Regions from separate parts of the Homo sapiens genome. Here region 1 is linked to region 2. Evidence: fine-mapped expression QTL. Tissue or cell type: blood mononuclear cells. Region 2 holds a variant in brackets; the other region holds the start of a gene. All regions are shown on one strand. Distances are between the middles of the regions.

What was found. PIP is the estimated chance that this variant, and not a neighbour inherited with it, causes the effect. A credible set is the group of variants that fine-mapping cannot tell apart.
Region 1: C1QB starts here. The variant in region 2 is the best candidate, but not a certain one, in a credible set for the expression of C1QB in blood mononuclear cells (TOPMed, PIP 0.81).

The regions. Positions count from the first base shown.
Region 1 is chr1:22,650,809-22,656,322 of GRCh38, reverse strand. C1QB (complement C1q B chain) reads right to left here and starts at 3,087. Exons shown (of 3, transcript NM_001378156.1): 1 at 3,020-3,087.
Region 2 is chr1:22,589,280-22,594,279 of GRCh38, reverse strand. EPHA8 (EPH receptor A8) reads right to left here. Exons shown (of 17, transcript NM_020526.5): 6 at 830-954; 7 at 594-756. Among named protein-coding and RNA genes, the nearest start is that of EPHA8, 28 kb to the right of the region's middle. The variant G/A (reference allele first, on the strand shown) is at 2,081.

The DNA.
Region 1 (5,514 bases), 62 kb before region 2:
TGCTATGAACATTTGTGAACAAGGATTTGAGTATCTGTTTTTAATTCTTTGGGGTTTATACCCAGGAGAGGAATTACCGCTTATGGCAATTCCATGTTTAAGTTCCTGAGGACCCTTCAGCCTATTCTTAAGTTTCCTCAATGACACCTCTGCCAAGGTCCCCCGTGTGGTGCCTCAACGCACTCCCCTGCTGCACAAACGTTGTGTTCACTCAGCCCTAAGAACTAATCACAACGCTAGCTGCACATCACATTATTTCCTTGGAAGAGTCAAGCTGAACTTTCTCAGCAGAGTGTGAGGAAATGACATCTCTGCCAAGGGCTCTTCCATCCATAGTTTGCACCGTTTCAGTGATGGGCAGCTCATTACCTCTCGAGGCAGCCCATTCCACCTTTGCCCAGATCCAAATGTTTTTTCTTCATTCGAAGCTTGGGTCAAAGCCTTCTTCCTCCAGGAAACCTTTCCTCAGAGGCTGAACTGTATCCTCTCTTAAAATGGGGGAGCAGAGTGGTCTCTGCCTACTTCCCAGAGTGGCCACAGGGACCCAGGTGAGACCATGGATGGGAAAGAGTCATAAAGCCTTGAGCCCCAAGCTCTCATTGGGACTTGTGGCTGCTACTGCTATTGCTGCTGTTCTCTGATCCTCTCAACACCCTGGGGAAGTGGGTTGTGATTAATTTCCCATCTTGCAGATGAGGAAACTGAGGATCGGAACTTAGAAAGCAACCTACCCAAAAATCACCCAGCAAACTATTCTAACAGCAGGGTTGTGGCCAAACTCCTACCCTCTCTGCCACATGCTGGCTGTCCCAACCCCAGAGTCTGGCATGTGGAGGGCTCCCTGGGACCAGACAAGGCCTACTGATATTTGGCTCCTATGCTCTGCAAACCAGCCTCAGCCCCTCAGCCTAGTCCTGATCAATTTCTTGCTGAAAGCCCTGAGTTATGCCAGACACTGTGCACCAAGGAAAGGAAGCTGTAAAGATGAGTGTGGCCAGGGAATGCTGGTGACAGCTTTAGGTTCTGTCAGGCTCTATGCTCTGAAGACAGGGTGGCTCAGGGGCATGGTCCTGCTTATCCATGAATAAGCATCAGCTCTCACTCTTGCTCTTGCTAAAGGTTTTACAAAATGGCAATTTAACAACTTTAATAAGTTGGGTACGTATAGGCCAGGCTCTGAGCCAGATGGCTTGCATGCCATTATCCCCTGTAATTTGATATTCAGCCCCTGAGAATGCACTCTTGCTTTCTTATTTTACAGATGAGGCAACGGGATCAGAGAGGGCAAGCACCTTGATAAAAGTCACACAGCTCCTGTGTGGCTGGGAGTCAAACCCACATCCACTGGATCTTAAAACTCAATGTTATGTTAAGAGGCCACTGTACCTGGTGGTAAAAACATAAACTTTGAAGCCAGACAGCCTGATAAAAGGACTAATGCATGGGACACACCAAGGGTAGTGGTAGGCACATGGTCAGTGTTCGGTGAAAGTGGCTTTTTACCACCACGATGATTGCTGCTCTTGTTAGGCAGCACACATTCACCTGGTGGCGGGAGCCTGTAGTGTCACAAGGAAAGCAACACTCAGCGTTCACATAAGGTCTCTACTGCTTCTTAGCTAAGGGACTTGGGAAATCACTCCTTCTCTCTGGCCACAGTTTACCCTCCTATAAAGTGGGGATAATGCTACTCTCTCCCTCATAGGGTATGTGCGAGGACATGAGTTACAGCTTCCAACAGAGCCTGGCATGTTGGAAATTCTTAATGAATATTAGCTATTTTATTATTATCACTGTCATCCAAGAATTCCTGAGTGGTTGAACAGAAGGGAAGATGGTTGGAGAAGTAAAAAAAGACAATCCCTTTGAAAGACTGTGTTTAGAGGGAGGGGCTCTGTCAGTTGGAGGCAGCAAGGGGTGGAGAGCTGTGACCAGTTGGTGGGGAGAGAGGGTGGGGAGCAGGGTACTGACAGGACTTGGGCTTCCTGGGGAAGCCAGGGGCAGGGGGAGTGGGAAAGTGCTGGTTCTAGCCCATTTCAAAAGCCACCGAGTTTCAGCCTTGGGTTAGGGCTTACAACTCATCTGGTTTAACTGCCTCCTGCCTGTGCCAGCCCATCATCATTGCCAGCGCGGTTTCTCCTGTCCTCCCCCCAGGCTCTGACCTTTCCATCTCCTTCGGTCCAGCAGTCCCTTTCCGCAACATGGAGTCAGGCCCACTTGACTTTAAAGCCCCATCTGCTACCGGCTGCATAACCTCAGGCAAGTGCCTTAACCTCTCTGAGCCTCTTGGCAATGCTGATTTCAACCTGACAGGGCTGCCAGAAGGATGACAGGAGAAGGCGCTTAGAAGAAATAAGGTCCCCCCTGCCCCGTGCAGTGCCACATCCCACTCCCCAGCTGCACAAACATTGCGCTCACTCAGTACTAGCTGAGAACTCATCGTAACTCTACCTGCACATCCCCTTATTTCTTTGGAAGAGTCAAGCTGAGCTTTCTCAGCGAGTATGAGGAAATAAGCAAGGTGTTGGGGAAATGCTGGGCCGGGCAGGAGCGACTGGCTTATAATCCCACTCCTGCCTCTGGTTTACTGATAAATTTTGAGCCAGGGCATGCACTAAGCTTTTGCAAGCTTGATCTCCTGTAAGGCACAGCAGTGCTGAAAGATTCTGTTCTCTGTAGGGGGGCCGGGCTGAGAGAGGTTAGGTGACTTGCCCAAGATAACCAATACATAAGGTGCAGAGCCAGACTCAGCTCAAGTCTCTGCGATGCCAAAGCTCCTATGTGCCAGGCTCCCGCTTTAGGTGGCCTGCCCATCCGCTAGGCCCTGGGTAGCAGCAGACTCCCCAACTCACCCCAGAGATCTGGGTCCCATAGGTCTGGGATTGGGCCCAGCTACCTGCACTGTTAAACAGCCTAACTGGCTCCGAGGCAGGTGACGCAAAGCTCACACTTACGGAATCACCACTTTCTGCCATATTGGCCCTGCCAGCCTCCCCCAGGCGCCAAGCCCCGTCCTCACCTGGGAAGCTGGTGTCCTGTGAGGCCACTGGGCTGAGCAGCAGTGGGACCAGGAGCCGAGAGCCTACTGCCCTCGGTCCGAAGCGGAAGTTCCCTTCCCCAGAGGCGGGAAGGGCTTTCCCCTGACGGTCCCCTCCCATGGACCAGCAGGCTGGCCCCTTTCCCGTCCCCTCACTGTCCCCCCACCCTGCTGCCCTCAGGCAGTTTCAGGTCCTATTTCTGCAACCCACTGGATTTACTGTAAATGAGACGGGTGGGTGGCAAGTTTGGTTCTGCCAACTCAGCAGCTGTGGGGAGAACACGCTGTCCTGGGGGAACATCCACAGCTCACCCTCCCAGGCTCTCTGACCTCGTGATCTTCTTCTACACTGGGCAGGGGTGTTCCTCAGTGAGCATCATGTGGCGGGCCCGCTGCCTGAGTGCTGGCTTACAGTCAGAGCCTTTGATTCCAATCCCGCCTCTGCCACTTGCCAGTTGATGTGTTGTCAGTCAAGGGAGCCCCAATTTTCTCTGCTATAGGATGGGACCATAATTGTACCTGCTCTACAGATACAGATCTCACAGGCCACTGGGAGGATAATGGAGGAAATGATGGGGGAGGAAGTGTCTGGGGGTAAACTGTAAAGGGCTGTGCACGTGTTCATTGTTAATATCACTTCATGTCCCAGGCTTCCCCTTTCTGGGCTCATCTCTTCTGCTTCCTTCCCATTCTGTGCCCCTGCTCTTTCCCTGTTCTCAGAAAATAATCTCATAATGAATTTTAAATGTGTTCATTATTTATTGATACCCCTCCCTCTGCTTCCAGCAGGGCTGGACGCTGATGACAATAATAGGCCCAGGCAGGGGCCTGTTGCTTCTTCTCGATCCTGGAATCACGCCAAGTTAGGGCCGGAGAGGGGCTGAGGTTACTCGGCCCATCCTCCTCATTTTATATACGAGGAAACTGAGGCCCAGAGGGGAGACCCACCATTTAACAAATATTTAGTGTTTGCTTCCATGTGCACTGAAGAGAGAGCTCTTAGCAAATCAGCCATGGTCCCTGCCCCCATGGGGCCTCCCTTCTACGGGGGGAGACTGGTGTTAAACACGGAATGACATGAGGCTTCATTGCTTCTGTGATAAATGTCACAGAAAGACGTGACTGCTGGGGCCGATGCCTCATGGAGGTGGCAGATGCAGACCTGGAAGCCGGCATCCCTGGCACTAGGATATCAGTCTCTCCCTGTGGCTGCGTCTCAGACGACATGATGACTAGCAAGCACCAGGAGCTGGAGGCCCTCTTGACATCTGTGCTTGGAGATGGAAATTCACTGGGCTTGTGGATGCAGCTTGGTGGAAATTAAGTGTTAACTGCAATGGGTGAACAGGAGGGAAAGATAAGTTTGATAAAACCAAAAGGTCTCTGAGCTCAGTCAACTATAGTCCCGAAGGGACCCAGGCTAGGGTGAAGAGAAGAAACACTGGATTCCACAAAGGGAGAAACGAGTTAGTAGGTTGCAAGTTGAGGGCTTCTGAGCATTCCCAAAGCCGAGTGGCTCTGGGCCTCTAGTTCTTTTTTTTTTTTTTTTTCTTGAGATGGAGTCTCAGTCTGTTGCTCAGGCTGGAGTGCAGTGGTGCGACCTCAGCTCACTAGAACCTCTTCCTCCCAAGTTCAAGCGATTCTCCTGCCTCAGCCTCCCAGGTAGCTGGGACTACAGGTGCATGCCACCAAGCCCAGCTAATTTTTGTATTTTTTTTTAGTAGATACAGGGTTTCACCATGTTGGCCAGGCCGGTCTCAAACTCCTGACCTCAAGTTGATCTGCCTGCCTCGGCCTCCCAAAGTGCTGGGATTACAGGCGTGAGCCACCATGCCCAGCCTCTGGGCCTCTAATTCTTAGGTGGCTAAGGGCAATGGGAAAAGATGGATGTCAATTTGGGGTAGAAGCAGTGAGGCTAAGAACAGGAAGCAGCAGAGGTGGGTTAGGAGCACGGACTTTGGCAGTTTGAATCCCAGCTCTTCGTCTTGCTAACTATGTGGCCACGGGAATGTTTACTGGCCTCAGTTTCCTCGTGTAGAAATGGGAAGCATGAACGCCTATCTCCTGGGGCTGTTTTGGGGGCCAGCGAGGTCCCCCTGCCATGTCCAGGGCCAGGTGAGTGCCCAGCCCTTGGTGGGCACCCACTGCAAACATGGGAACGGTATTACTTATATGAAGAGAAGATGGAATTCTTGGAACCCAGGAGCAAAGAAGCCATGCCTGGATTAGGAGGAGGCCTGGACTTGGGGATCAGGAGCTGAGGGGTCCCTGGGCCTTGACCGCTAATGGGAGCCAGCTGGTCTCTGTACCTACAAAATTTTGGACTCACATCCCTGATTGAGAGTGGAAAATCCCTGATCCCTGCAAAGAGTGGAAAAAGAAACCTACACCCCCTCACCTTCCTGTGGTTGGAAAGGGGTTCCTTGCAGCTTGGGGTGTCTTGTCCTGGCTCCTGCCCCACGTCCACCCCTCCTTGC
Region 2 (5,000 bases):
AATGCTGACAGAGGCCGGGTGCAGTGGTCCATGCCTGTAATCCCAGCACTTTGGGAGGCCAAGGTGGGAGATCACCTGAGGTCAGGAGTTCAAGACCAGCCTGGTCAACATGGTGAAACCCCATTTCTATTAAATACACAAAAAAATTAGGCTGGCAGCAGTGGCTCATGCCTGTAATCCCAGCACTTTGGGAGGCTGAGGCGGGTGGATCACAAGGTCAGGTGTTCGAGACCAGCCTGGCCAAGATGGTGAAACCCCGTCTCTACTAAAAATACAAAAATTAGCCGGGTGTGGTGGCAGGTGCCTGTAGTCCCAGCTACTGAGGAGGCAGAGGCAGGAGAATTGCTTGAACCTGGGAGGTGGAGGTTGCAGTGAGCTGAGATTGCACCACTGCACTCCAGCCTGGGTGGCAGAGTGAAACTCTGTCTCAATTAAATAAAAAACTCCGACAACCCCACTTGGTAGGGCAAGGAGAGCAGAAATCCTGCATTGGCACTGGCTCAGCCTGCACTAGCTCTCTCCTCGGCCACCCCCCGACCCCAGGGTCCTGGCACCTGGGCTGCTCCGCGCCCACGCCCCCTCCCTGCACTCACGGGGTTTCCCGGTCTCCACCTCCATGGCCTGGCTGAAGCGGCCACAGCCTGCTGAGGTGCGGGCTCGGACCTGGAACACGTAGCGGGTGCCCGGCTTGAGGCCGGAGACGGTGGCTCTGGTGGTGACGGCCTTGAGGGTGGAGTAGCTCTGCATCTCCTTGTCCTGCCACGGGACGGTGGTCAGTGGGCCCTGCCCTGCTGGCCCAGCCCCTCCCACTCCGTCCTGCCCGTGGTACCTTCTCGTAGTACTTGATCTCATACTCCAGGATGATGCCGTTCGGCTGCTCGGGCTCCTGCCACAGCAGCGAGACGCTGGTCTGCCCCGCCCGCTCTTGACGGATCACCACCACCTGGGACGGGGCTGGGGCGGCCAATCCCGTCAGATGGGCGGAGGGGAGACAAGGCGTGGCCTCTCTCCCAACCCTTCCCAGGTTCCACCTGGGGATCCTGGTTCCAGCCCTGCTCAGCTTCCTGATGGTCCTGCCCCAGCCCCAGGACAGCCAGCACCCTCCAGTTCTCCCAACAAATCGCTGGTGGCCACTTGGGGTCAGTCCCCTGGGGTTGGCGTGGCCTGGCATGGTCTGGGATGTTGGGGTTGGCTTGGACAAGAAGACGCTTGAGCCTCCCTCCCCAGCCCAGGGCCCGGCATGGACCAGCTGCTTGGGAGTGCTTGAGGAAGGAGGAAAGGTCAGGAGAAAGAAGTGTAGAAAGAATGGAGGAACTGGCCCCTCACTGCCTGGGTTTGGAGGGCATACCTGGGACAGTTCTGGATGCTGAGGGAAGGGGGTGAGCTGAGCCCCAAGTATTCTCCCAGTCACACTTGGTTGCCCGCCCACCCCTCCCTCCTTGACGGCGTCACCCATGCCTTTCTTCATGCATCTCTCCCTCCTGGCTCAGGTGCGGTCAGCCCTGTGGGGAGGCTGCTAGGAGGTGTCAGACACAGCCACGCCACAGCCAAACAGAGGGAACTGCCCTGTCCTCCCTGCCCCTCCAGCCCTCAGGCCTCCTCCTCCCCTCTGCTCACCCCGAGTTCTGACTCTCTGCCCTATGTGACTAAGTCTTCCCTCATGTCTGGGCATCCCCAGCACAACCGGGAGCTCCCTGGGGGCAGGGACTGCACACAGTAGGTGCCCAATAAATGCTGCTGAGGATTCTGGCATGAGAAATTAAGAAGCAGCTCCAGAGTTGCACTGGAAGGGTGTGGTCCAGGGGAAAGCCCACCAGTCTGGGAGCCAGGCGTGGGTTCGGGACTTGGCTCCCTCTCTTGCTAGCTGGGACCCTGGGTGAGTCACTTGCTGTCTGCGGACACCAGGTCCCCTTCTATAAAGTGAAGCTAGTGAGCACCACTTGCCAGGGGGAGGGGAGGATTCGATGAGGCCACTGTTTGCAAGGGACACACAGGGTGTGTCTCTTAAAAACCAAGGCAGGAGGTGCTGTGGGATGGGGGCAGACAGAGTGAGACCAGGGCCCAGAGCGGGAGGGGAATG[G/A]GGTTCGCGTCCGAGAGGGCTCCAGGGAGGAGTTGGTTGTAGAGAAGTGGTGATGGTGAGGCAGGAGGGGCAGGTGGTCTTTGAGCACAGTCCTCCACATTTGCTTAGAGCTGTCGCTTGATCCTCTAGGACTCCTGAGTGCCTATCACATGCTGGGCACGGGGCTAGGAGCCGGGAACTCTGCAGTGCCCAAGACATCCCTCTAGGAGCTTCTGTCCCAGGAAAGGAGACAGGGCGTCCAATAAACAGGAGAATGGGGGTTCTTTTGGTGCTGGGAAAGGTAGGAAGGGGTGCTGTCTGTGATGGAGAAGACCACTGCAGGGCCCGGAAGGGCACTGGCACGTTTCAGCTGAGGTGGTCGGGGGAGCTTCCAGGGCAGAGGAGCCAGGCATAGGAATGTCAGGGGAAGAGTGAGTCATTCCGAAGGAGAAGCCAGGCCACGGCCTAGCAGCAGGGAAAGACCCAGTGTGTTCAAGGAGGGGGCACCGGAGACCATCATGGCCAGAAGAGAGTGAGCCAGGGAAAGAGGTGCTCTGGAGAGGCAGGCAGGGGTGAAGCTGTGTGGGTCCACAGGCCATGAGAATGTCTGAATTGCATGTGCGCTCAGCCTAGGCTGTGAAGGGCTTTGAGGACAGCTTGTTCTCATGTATTTTCATCTAAAAAACTTGGGGGGCGGTGGTGCTGGGCATGGTGGCTCATGCCTGTAATCCCAGTACTGTGGGAGGCTGAGGCAGGAGGATCACTTGAGCCCAGGAGTTTCAGATCAGCCTGGGAAATATAGGGAGACCCCATCTCTACAAAAAAAAAAAAATCACTGGGCATGGTGGTGTGTGCCCTTGGTCAGCTACTTGGGAGGCTGAGGTGGGAGGATCACTTGGGCTCCGGAGATCAAGACTGCAGTGAGCCGTGATTGTGCCACCACACTCCAGCATGGGTGACAGATAGAGACATTGTCTCAAAAAAAATTTTTTTTGTAGAGATGGGGTCTTGCCATGTTGCCCAGGCTGATCTCAAACTCCTGGCCTCAAGTGATCCTCCCGCCTTGGCCTCCCAAAATGCTGGGATTACAGGCGTGAGCCACCACACCCAGCCCTCACTTCTATTTTTAAAGCTCACTCAGGACTGGTGTGGAGAATGTCTTGTGGGGGTGAGGCAAGAGGGGTCTCCTGTGGTGGTCCAGGCATGGACTCGTGGGGGGTGGAAGTCAGTTGGTCATTTTGAAGGGAGGTCCCTGGGGCTTTAGGGGGGGATGGATGTGACATGCATGAGAGTCAAGGATGACAGCTTGGGTCTGGAGGTGCCATGTCCTAGGGCGGGGCAGGTGCAGGTGTGGCAGGGTTGTTTGTTTTTCACATAACCGAATGGAGACAGGAGTGGGCAGCTGGGTCCTAGGGGAGAGGTCTTCGCTGGTGACCGCGAGTTGGGGGTTGTTAGCACAAAGGTGGAATTCAAAGTCATGGGCCCTGAAACAGCCGCCCAGAAAAGATGGATCTGGGCACACAGGAAAGAGAGGAGGGCCCAGGACATTCCCAGGGACCCATGGCCTTTAGAGGCCATTTAAAGGAGGTGGGGCTACAAAGACAGAGAGGGACAGGCCACACAGGTCAATGGAAAATGGGCGTGGGCTGGGACACACGAGCAAGAGAAAAGTGTTTCCAGGAGGAGGAAATGAAAGGGGGAAGAGGCGCCCATGGATGTGGCCACGCAGGGCTGCTGATTTCTGTGAAGAGGTGAGGAAAGACATGGAGAAGTCCCGCAGAGGAGAGGAAGAAGTAGATACGCCAGGCACGGACAGAGAGGGTCGTATGGGAAGAGAAATGGTCTGGTGACCGGAGGGGAAGGCAGGTTCAAGGCAGGGTCTAGTTTCCTCTTTAATGTTGGGGCATCCCGGATGCTGCCTGAATGCTGTGAACTTCTCTTGCTCTCCCCTCCACTTGGGACCAGCCTGCCAGGGGCCTCAGGTGCCTAGAGACAGGTGGGCCAGGGCTGGGCTCTACCACGGGGCACATAGCTCACTCTCTCTCTGTGTTGCCAGCACCTGGCACCACACTTGGCATTTAGTGGGTGTTCCACGAGGGCTGTCGAATGAGGGAATCTTCTGAAGGGCTGAGGCCCTGGCGTCAGGGAGCAGCATGCCCTAGATTCAGAGTGGGGGGACCTGCTTCACTTGGGAGTGACACAGACCTGGGTTTGAGCCCTGCCTCTGCCACTTCCTATGTCAGGTGGCCCTGGGTGCTCTCCAGGCCTCAGTTTCTTCCTCTGTGACGTGGTGGGCATATTGTCTGCGAGGCCAGGGCTGTGTGGTTTTGGGAGGAGATGGTGGGTGGGGGCCTGAGGGTCTTGGGCACAGGTGAGGGTGGCTGTTAATAGGAAGCTGCCCTAGGAGGGCTCTTGGGTCACGCTGTCACTTGACGGGCAGGGTCCTCCAGAGTTTGGGAAGAAAGAGGTTCCGGGGGTGAATTCAGCCCACCAACTGGCCAGAAACTGATAGATAAACTACTGTGGTCCAAGCCAGTGCAGCCAAGTCTATCCCAAGGGCAGCTGTAGCAGCTGTTCTGGAAAATGATCATCCGAGTGATTTTATTTTTTAATGACATTTATTGAGCATTTACCACGGGCCAGGTGCTGGGCTAAGCAATTTCATTCCTCTCATTTAAGCCTCCTGAGAGGACCTCAGGCAGGTACTATTATTCCCATTGCACCAGGGAGGAAACTGAGGCACAGAGAGGGAAAGTTCTGGAACCTAGGCTTTCGACGGCCACACTAGCCTGCCTCTGAGCTTTTGGGATTTCTCTTACTTATAGAATGTGTTCCACTTTTCTAAAGGCAATGAAGAGCCTCCAGCTCTGGGTCCTGGTGAGGAGCGCAGGGCCAGAGAGGCACTTGCCTAAAGGCCCACAGCACGTCCCCGGCAGAGCTC